Linked DNA regions of Homo sapiens: region 1 is linked to region 2. The links come from fine-mapping of genetic effects on gene expression. A gene starts in region 2. The other region holds a variant in brackets. All regions are shown on one strand. Distances are between the middles of the regions.

Evidence for each region. PIP is the estimated chance that this variant, and not a neighbour inherited with it, causes the effect.
Region 1: its variant is the best candidate, but not a certain one, in a credible set for the expression of SIRPG in blood mononuclear cells (TOPMed, PIP 0.72).

Annotation. Positions count from the first base shown.
Region 1 is chr20:1,563,755-1,569,134 of GRCh38, reverse strand. It overlaps SIRPB1 (signal regulatory protein beta 1), which reads left to right. Exons shown (of 6, transcript NM_006065.5): 5 at 2,868-2,982; 6 at 3,638-5,380. The coding sequence ends at 2,980. Among named protein-coding and RNA genes, the nearest start is that of SIRPD, 8.7 kb to the right of the region's middle. The variant G/C (reference allele first, on the strand shown) is at 2,870.
Region 2 is chr20:1,655,761-1,661,140 of GRCh38, reverse strand. It overlaps SIRPG (signal regulatory protein gamma), which reads left to right and starts at 3,362. Exons shown (of 6, transcript NM_018556.4): 1 at 3,362-3,499. The coding sequence starts at 3,427.

The sequences.
Region 1 (5,380 bases), 92 kb after region 2:
GAGTGAGCCCTGGTAAGTTGTGTTTTGCATAACTTTTGGTCCATTTCATCTAAGTTGTCATATTTATGTGTGTAGAGTTGTTCATAATATCCTCTCATAACCCTTTTGGTGTCTGCAGGGTCTGCAATGGTATCCCACGTTTCATCCTGATACTAAAAATGTGTCATTTCTCTTTTCTTTTTCATCAGTCATGCTAGAGTTTTTTCCCATTTTATTGGTGTTTTCAAAAGATTGACTCTTTGTTTCAATGGGTTTTTGTATTGTTTTTGTGTTTTCAGTTTCATTAATTATCTGCTCTCTTCTCTCTTTTTTTTTTTAAATTAATTCCTATCTCCTGCTTTCTTTGGGTTTACTTTGCCCTACTTTTTGTAGTTTCTTTAAGTGCGGGATTTATATTTATTGACTTGAGACCTCCTCTTTTCTATGTCCTCCCTTCATCACTTTCTGTGGCTGGGGGCTGGTATTTGGGCATAGAGTCCCTGCTGTTTGGCTGCTGGGCTGTTCCTCAGTCCTCAGGTTCTTACCTCGCTCTTCCACCTTGGAAGTTCTCCTATGCCTGCTCCTCATGATATTTCTTGGGTTCATAGTTGTACTTCTCAAGGAGGCACAGGATGAGATGAGTCTGTACCATCTGGACAAGGTTGAGTCTTTTCTTAGACTTCCAACCACCCACTGGGGCTGAGAGAGGGCTGCCATTTTTGGGTTCTTTCAGTGTGTCTGACATGGCATCCTGGCACATATGCTAAGTCTGGAAATGCATTTTAGGTTGTCTAGGCTGGCAGGCAAACTGCAGGATGCCTTCTGTGACGTGCTGCATCAGTGGCATGGGAGCCTAGTGAGAGACTGTGCCCTAGGGTTAGGTGAGTGTTCCCTTTTGACTCAGCCATTTTGCAGTTTGGCATTCTCTCTTCAAGCAATATTTAGGGCCTGGATTGTGTAGAATTTACTTTTCCTTTTCTGTTTCTTCTTTTGGCTTGGGGAGGATATTTATAGCGACAAGTAGCGATGCCACTGCAATTGTCCCCAGTAACTCTGAAGTCAACTGACAATCTTTGAGTGGTTTGACCCAAATGTCTCCTTCCACATTTCAGGGTCCCACAACTTCCCCATCAGGGCCCTATCCCAGCATAGCAGCCATTGAAACTGAGATTCATGCTCCGCTGTGATTCTGCTACTCTTCTATGATGCCCAGGACCCAATTCTCTATTCCTTCTGCCCTGTGGCTCCAAGAAATAAGAATCTGCAGTGCTGCCAAGAAGTCCTCTGGCTTCCAGCTGAACTTTAACTCATGATGAATCACTCTTAGTTTCTCATTGCCTTCCTCCCAAGAGTTCATGCCCAGCAACAGCTAACACCTTAGTTCTTATAACGACCATTTCCCAATCTGTTTTCAAAAGGCTAATGGCAAGGAATTTCCTTCCTGTGGTAACACTATCCCAGTTTAGTGCCAGTGAAAGTGTTATCAATCGCAACACAACAGCAAGTCACGGCTTCTCCAGTCCCATTCACCACCAGCCCTGGGGTCCTCATTGCTAGCTGATGAGTAATCAGATTCCCAACTTATATTTTAGAGTCTTCTTTCCAGACCACTTCCCAAGGACAGTTTCTCTGGGAGGCCACCTGAGGATGCATAAAGCAATGCAGGAGGCATCCTAGAGTGCTGTCAGGGTCAACATGCCTCAGGAATGAGGAGGCAGGAGTGTAGGAGGAGGGAGGTGCTGAGCCACAGTGCAGGCAGTACAAAGATGCAGCTGCTCTTGCAGAGAGGCAAAAGGCCGGAGGGTCCTGTAGATTTTTTTCAAATTGAGGGGAAGGGCTGGCCCTTCATATTCCCAATGCAGTCTATCTCTCATGTGGGCTGCCCCTTAGAAGGAATAAACTTGGGCAGTGCAGCTCTCCTCAAAGGAGAGAAAGCCCCAGAGAGCCACCCATCTGAGAACTGCCGGCCTGCAACACTCCAACACTCCAGCGGCTATAGATGCTGAGGTCTCCATTCCTTCCTTAAGGACCCACCAGCACCATTTTATTTTAAAAAAAATTTTTTTTAATACCTTTGTTACTTTTAACATCCAAAACCCCTTATTTAAAAAATGCAAACAGTCCCAACATGAGCTTCCGTAGATCTGACTCTCTGTGTCCAACAGAAAGATTTCAGATGACATCTGCACTGGGGTTGAGGTAGGAGAGATGATGTCTGAGGCCCTTCCAAGCCCGAGGCACATTCCCTGACTCACCAGGGAATTTTCCAGCCAGCAGGTTTAATTGGGTCTTGTCCCTGGAGGGCTCCCTGAGATCATGAGAATATGGGGTCCTCTCCCTGCCCCTGGGGCTAAGAAGGGCAGCATGCAACTCTCTCACTCTGAATCCATCCTCACACCACCTGCCCACCCTTTACTAATCATTCTCATGATCCTGGAGTGTTGGACTTGTCTTGGACTCAGGAGTCACCCTTGGGGACATAATGATGGGCTTCCCTAGGTTTGGATCCTACTAATCTCCTGACACTCCCTAAACTCTCTGGCCTCAGTTTCCCCATCAGAATGGAATAATAATCCCTGCCCCATGGGCGTGTGAGGATCAAGTGAGGAACCCAGTTGCCACATATATGAATACCTGAGCACACACTCTCTCCACCTTTTCCCTCCAGGAGGATAAACTGGCAGCCTGGGACAGGGTGAGTGAGAATGAGGAGCCACTTTCCCTGGCCTTTGCTTTCGGCTGGAGTCAGGAAAGCCAGAGCAGGATGCAAGTTCAAAAGCTTCAGAGGATTGATGGGCCCAGGTAGCCTCAGATGGGGTAAGTGGAGGCCCCTGGGATGAGCTCCCAGGTGGCCCCTCTCATGGCTCCTCCTCTTCCCTGATTTCCAGAA[G/C]CAGCGCTGGCTCCTACTGCTCCACTCCTCGTAGCTCTCCTCCTGGGCCCCAAGCTGCTACTGGTGGTTGGTGTCTCTGCCATCTACATCTGCTGGAAACAGAAGGCCTGACTGTAAGTTTAGGAGAGGGAGGACTGACCAAGGGCTCCTCCAGAAAGGCAAGGCCAGCAGGAGGGCCCAGCTCACATGCCATGCAGCTTCAGGGTCAGTGGAGTTTACAGAAGGTGACAGGGCTCCCTCAGGATACTCAGGAGTCTCAGGGAACCCTGTATGGGGCTCCCAACCCCCAGGGAGTGTGCAGGAGTTGGGATGGTCAAGGGTATTACAGGAGGTGGGATGCTTCAAGGGGGTTCAAAGTTGTCCCCAGTGGCCTAGGAGTCCCATGGAAAAGGTGGACAGAGGGGTCTAAGTGAGGGCCAACTGAGTGGGTGGTCCCTTGGAGGCCACTGCTGGGACTCCATGGGTTCAAAGTAATCCCCACCGTAGTGTTGAGAATTCCCAGATAGGCTGCTCTGAGGGCTGTTCCTGCTCTGACCTTCTGTGTGCTTGAGTGGAAAGCGGGGAAGAGGGAGCATCAGGACTTGGAAGAAGTGCTGAGCTGGCAGAGTCCTATCTCAGGTCTGCCTGTCCACCCATAACAGGCATCCCAAGAGGAGACCAGCACTAGGGACATATCAGGCTCTCAGGAAACATTTCTTAAATGATGAGCAGATGAATGAATGTGGATGTGTTTTCCAACAGCTCCTTCCTTCCTTCCCTGCCATGTAGGACCCTCAGTCTCTGCTGCCTCCTCCTTTCTTGAGAAGCTCAGCCTGAGAGAAGGAGCTGGCGAGAACCTTCCCCACACTCAGCTCCAAACGCCTCCTCTCCCAGGTCATCTGCCTGCCCACACGCTCCTGTTCCACCTTCACAAGACCATGATGCCCCAAAGCAGTGTCTCTATTCACGGTCCTGAGCAGGGGCCATGGGATTGGGCTCTGGGCACTGACTCATGGCACCTCCCTAGAAGGTGAGAAACACTCCAAATCTAAACACACCAGGACTTCTCCCATCCGTCGCCTTGGGACTGGCCATAAACCACAGACTCTCTCCAGGCTCTCAAGAGTTATCCTGTCTTCTGGATTCCTGCCTACCCCAACTCCCCCAGCCTTGTTGAGGTTCTCTACTGCCTCCTGAATACACATGAACCCCTATACCAATTTTAAGAAAAAAATGATTCTCTTTCCTCTTTGTCCAAGCATCCTATCCCTCAAACCCAAAAAGAAAGAAGCTCTCCCTTCTCTCTCTGTGATGGAGACAGTATTTCTTCTAGTATCCTGCAGCCTTCCCAGTCCTGCTGCTTGTGGTAGAAATGCTGCCACAGCCCAACATTGAGGAGCCCTCGATGACTGCCCTTTACAACTCATATTCAGTTCTGCCTCCAAAATGCATGTGTCCACTTACATGAGATGGTAAATGTTTAACAATGGACTTTCTGAAAGGGAAAAACCAAAAGCTGTTTTGCAGTGCTTGCCAATTTCTCTAGTGTAATAACTCCCAACCTGACCAATTTCACACTGCCAACAGTTAAACAACCAGATTGCAAGATTCCTGAAATTTAACAATTGGTTTTCAGGGCCCAGTCCAAGCCTGCTGCTGGAAACCTCAGAGTTAAATCCCTATTCTCCACACCTCTCACCTCCACCACCCCTCCCTGTCCCAGCCAGCATCATCTCTTTGGGGACCACTCCTCTGGCTTTCATTTTTCAGCCACAGTGATTCTTTGGAAAAGTCAAATCATATCACTTCTCTGCTTCTTCCCCAACACAGCTGCATGGCTCCCGCTCTCCCTCCTTCAAGTCTCTGCTCAATGTCACTTCATTAAAGGCACCTTCTATAAACTACCTTGTATAAAATATTATTTATTTTCTCTATCCCGGCATTCTAATTTCTCTTATCCTAATTAATTTTTCTTTAGCCCTTATTTTGATGAGTATTATGCCGAATACAGGCAGCCCTCACTTTTCATGGCAGTGCAAGATTGCAAAAATGACTGTGCAACCTGAAACCCAGGAAAGCAGTCTCCATAGTCAATCAGAAAAACAATGATCATTCTGTGACCTTTACCATTTTTTGTCAAAATATTAGAAACTCTCACACTCTCAGTTACAAATGTAGAGGACAATGAAAATATAATGAAATAAATATTTATTTGTGCACTACAATTCAAAGCATTAGAAACATTGAGAGTTCAAGTGCTGTTTCTTTGTAAAAATGTATCCAGAGTAGTTGGAAGAGTGCTTGCCTTTTTTTGTATATTTCTAATATGGAGTGATATAGTTTGGCTCTGTGTCTCCATCCAAATCTCATCTTAAATTGTAATCTGCATGTGTTGTGGGATGGGCCTGGTAGGAGGTGACTGAATCATGGGGGCGGACTTCCCCCTTGCTGTTCTTGTGATAGTGAGTTCTCATAAGATCTCAGTGAGTTCTCATGAGATCTGGTTTTTTGAAAGTGTGTGGCAAGTCCCCC
Region 2 (5,380 bases):
CAAAACACTACCTAATAACGATAATATCTAACTACTATCTATAATGATAATGGTAATACTGAATATATAACTTTTGGAGGACATGGTCAGATAGTATTAAGTAATTTGCATATATTAGTTCATTTAATTCTCATCACAAACTTATGAAGATGGTATGATTATTCTCTCCGTTGTACACTTGGGGAAACTCAGGAAACAGGGAAGTTAATAGTGACCCCAGGATCACACAGCTGGGACCCATTAGAGCTGGATTTCAGACCAGGAAGTTTTGATTCTTAAGCCCACAGTCTTACATCTTTAGTCTTCTGGAGCATCCACTGGCTCCCAGTTTCTCATGTGTCCCAAAGTCGTCCCTGGTTATCTGCACCTGCTGTGATGAGTCAGGGTGAAATATGGCAGATAAAGGAGAATTTTGGCTCATGGACTCCCAGGTTCCTGGTCCTCTCAAACATTCAGATTTTATCTATGCTTCCCCAAGTCACCTAAATTTAAATTTCAATTCTCCACGTGATTTCCACAAAAATTGTAAGCATCTGTGTACTTAGTTGATCTTTACTGAAGGATTGAAGTTCACAGGAAGGCACTTGCTGCTCTAAGCACAGATTCTGCCATCTTCCTGACACTATACTATGCATTTTTGAGTCATATACGCCCAATTCTTATTTTTGGAGACATAATACTTTATGACTCACACCTCTCAAAGTAATGTAGTAATGTGGATAGGTAAAAATAGAGCAATAGGAAAAGATATACCACAATATTGTGGTATATTTTTACCTATCCACATTACTTTGTTTGGGTGTGTCTCTGTGCTGTACCACAGGAAATTTCCCCTACATAATCACCCAGCTTACTAACTTACTATTATACTTATTTATGTATAGTCAGCTAGTCAACCTATTAAGTTTTTTTAAAAAATTTCAGCACTGATTATGTTTTCATTTCCAAAGTCTGTGTTTTGGTATTTTTTCAAGATGGTTGTTGTTACCTCATGCCCGCCTATTTCTGTTTCATATTATTACATGCCTGATGTTGGTTTATGAATTTACTTCTCTTTTGTTTTCCTTATAAGATCATTAAGTATACTAACTTTAAAGAACTTTACACATTTTGTTTTTTCATATTTGCTCAGGTGTGAAGTTCTTTTGATTGCTATTTGTTTTTGAGTTATTGTTTTTCTTGAATTTGTTAGCTGCAGTGCTGTTCCTCAAATCTTTGGTGATTCTTGCTTGCACTTCCGTCTTCCCAGGAATAATTCCCCATGTGATCATGGGTTGTCAGGGCCTCGTGGAGCATGGCACCTGCCCCAGCCTCACTATGAGGGCTGCTCCTAATTGAGGCTATAGCTTCTTCTCTGCTTTCTTCCTGAGGGATGTCTCTCCCTTCCTGCAAGAGGTATCATAGTACAACCATTAAAAGTGAAGGCTGTGGAGTGTGGCAGCCTATGTTCCAGTTCTAAAAGCCGGGTGATCTTGAGCAAATTCATTACTCTCCATGTGCCTCGGGTTTTCTCACCTGTGAAAGGAGGTTAATGGTTGAGCTTACCTCATGGGGTCAGAGCAATGATTTAATGACATTACCAATAGAAAAATGCTTGGCACCATATCTGGAGCACAGGAAACTCTCAATAAATGATAGCTGTTATAATTCCTTCATGTCATATAGAAGCCAATTGCTTGTATTCAAGTGTAATTAGACATTGATTCATATATTCTTTTCATTTTGTGTTTTCACTACTGTGGGTGTGGAGAAGGAGGGGAAGATTTCACCCTGTGTACATCTGCCACATTAAAACAGGACTTTCAATTAAAACATGATAACATTTACAATTTGATTTGACAATTATTCATGACAGATTAAGAACCTAAAACCCACATGTGAGATGAAGGATTCTGGACAGGTCTTTCTTAGTCATAGATGCTGGAAGAGAAATCATTTCTTTTAACAAGGTGGCTTTTCTAAGGCACAACGGTGGCAGAGAACCAGTGGACTCTTCCTGTACACAGAAAATAATTATAGCCATGTTTTTTTGCTTATAATTAATTATGAGTCAAGCATTCAGTATGGCTTATATTATTCCTACCATAGCTCTACAAGGTGCATATTCTAACATTTATTTACATACAATCAAACCAAGGCTCAGAGAAGTAGTGTCTTTTTGAAAATCACACAGCTGGAAATTGTAAGAGGAGGAATTAATCTATGGTTGAACAAGGAGCGGGATTTAGAGAATCCAGAGGGAGAAACTGATTTCAGGGTGGCAGCGAGAGTCCAAATACACTATATAAGCTGGGTCTCAGGAGGCCTGGGTTGCTGGGAGAAAGCCACTGGTGGGCAACTCAGCATGCAGGAGGGATCCATTCAAAAGCAACATTTGAGTTCCCGCACTTCACCTGGCACCGTGAGTATCAATAATGACCTACTGGGTTTCAGGCATGATATGCTCATTACCTCTTTAATCGTCACTAAAACACTGCACAAAAAGACTTACTATTCCCAGTTTAGGAGATTGAAACTGAGCATAGGAGGGCCCAGCGACTTCCCCAACTCCTTGGCACACACTCTTGGCAGGAGCATGGATTTTTCCTCTTTCCTCATTTCCCATCCGAACTCAGTGATGAATGAAATAGGTGCTCTGTGTGTAGAAGAAAGGGTATTGAAATTGATGCGACGGCCCCAGGAACCTGCCCACCATAATCTTCCCTCATGATAACCCTATCCCCTTTCCATAACCCACAATCCCCACCTCACTCCACAAAGCAGTTGCTTATTACCTCAAACCCAGTTTCTCTCCTGGAAGGAGTCAAGAAATAATTCCTTCTGCTGGGTGCAGGCACATGAAAGTGCTAAGGTCCACAAGAGACTGAATTTGGGCTAAGTGTTGCCAATTATAGCAATTTGGAATAGAAAATCATTTCAGGAGAAGATCTGGTTCCTCTCCAGTGTTGAGCAGGTCCTGTGAACTCTTCTCCTACGTCCAGCGGAGTGGCATTTGGTTGAGGCTGGTGCAGAACAAGACCACAAGCCAACCACATCCTAGGGTCTTGAAATAAAGACTTTAGAAAACAATACCTAACAACAGATCTTTCTTGACTTAAAAGCCTCAAATGGCAAATCACCAAGAAGACCTGAAAATGGGTTTGGGGACACGAGGAGGGAGCACAGGTCCCAGGCAGGCAGGAAGCATTATTTCTGCTAACCCTGTCTGATTATCCTGAAAATGGAGCACGATTAACTCCTTGCTTTGTAGCTGCCTACTGTGCCTGATTTGTAAGTCACAATCTAGAAGCAGGTTACTGTTGCATTCCATCATAGCCACTTCCTCTTGAATTGAGGGAGGCAGGGCTTGTCTTCTGTCTTCAGAGCAGGGCCTGACATCTCCCCAGAACAGACGTTTGAACAGAGCAGGCTTCTGAGGTCTCCAAAATGCCTGTCCCAGCCTCCTGGCCCCATCCTCCTGGTCCTTTCCTGCTTCTGACTCTACTGCTGGGACTTACAGGTGAGCATTGCATTGGGCTAGAACCCTTTCTCCCTGCTTCCTGGACCTAGCCTTGCCCCTGGACTTGCAGCAATTTCAGATAAGCACAAGCACTGCCAAGGAAGGTCAAGGACTGGACATTGTCCAAGAGCAGAAGATCAGGGAGCTGAGCACTTTCTCTGTGGATCTGCAGCTGGCTACCAGAGGCATCAAACCTTGTGAGGCTTCTGCCACCATCACAATTAGTTACATTTTTATAATATTTTATTTGACAAACACAGAAGAATCATTATTAAATCCTTACCTGTCTTGAGTCCTCCTACCCATTTTTGTGTGCCCTCCTCCTCTTTAAGAAGTTCCACATTTCATGCTTACAGCGTCCTATATTCCTTTCTTAGGGCTTCCACAACAAAGCACCACAGACTCAGTAACTAAAACAATAGACATTTACTTTCTTTCTTTCAGTTCTGGAGGCTGAATTGCAAAATCAAGATGCCAGCAGGGTTAGTTTCTACTGAGGTCTTTCTCCTTGGCTTGTAGAAGGCCATCTCCTCCATGTGTCTTGACACATGGTCTTCCTCTGTGTGTGTCTGTATTCTCATTTTCTCTTATGAGAACATCAGCCATATTGGATTAAGGCTCCCCGCCAGTGACCTCATTTAACTAAATTGCTTCACCCATTTATGCCTAGTGCTCCGTTATTGGATCACTAAGCTTGCGGGAGTTATTTATATCCTACTGCTCAAGGGCATCGCCAAGGTCTGATTTTTCAAATTAAAAAAAAATTGCAACCTCGGGCATAAATGGGTTAAAGACCTTGTCTCCAAATATGGTCAAATTCTAAGGCGCTGGGGATTGGGGCTTCAACCCATTCGTTTTGGGGGCACATTCAGCCCATAACAGGCACCACCATCTCCCTTGGTCATCTTGACTTTCCTCTGGAGAATTTATTTTCCCTTCCCCCAGGCAGACAGGATTGGGAGGTCTTTCCTGGTGCCACCTGAGAGAGCCCTGTTCACAGCTCCCAGACAGGCTGCCTGTCTTCACCCCTTTTTCAGACCATGCAGCTGACCCCCGGTCACAGGGCTGGGCACAATAGCCTCTCAGTTGCCCACTGGGCCCTGCTGTGATGTCATCTCACAGGTCTTAGAGGGCAAGGTCTCACTTTTCAAATTATTTTTTTTACACATACACTGTACCCAAATGACAGCAGTAATAGTTCAGCAATTGCTCTCTTCCTGTAAGGCAGATGCACTTCTTAGCATTTTGTGTGTATTAAGTCAACTAATCCTCACAGCATCCCTGTGTGGAAGCTATAACTCTTGTGCTCTATTTGCAAATGGGGAGTGAGGCAGAGGCAGGAACCTGTTCATTGTCCCCTACTTCAGTCCATGGAGCAGTTGGGATCAAGTCCAGGTTGACCAGTTCCAGAGTTTATCACCCTTTTAACCATGTTATGCTATGTGTAGAAATATTAGAAAATGCAGGCAAGCAAACATTAGATTAATAATCACCCATCACACCAGTCAGAAACAATCAGAGGTAAAACACTAGTGTATGTATGTTTTCCCAAAATGTTAAAAATGTGTTGGATGGTTTCTATGTGCCAAATATTTTACTGAGATTTTTAAATTTGTCATAATTGTAATTAATGCACAAAACAACCTTATATACTAACATGATAAGCCAAACTTTTATATATATTTGTGAATGTGTATATATACACATTATATACACATATATATGCACATGTGCCTATGCATGTACATGTACATGCACAGATGAGATTTCATTTTTAATCATTGGTTCTCTTTCTATTTTCAGTGAAATTTTTAACAAAATAAATATTTTATTTTATTTTTATTTGACAAAAGTATGTATACTTATGTACAACATATTAAG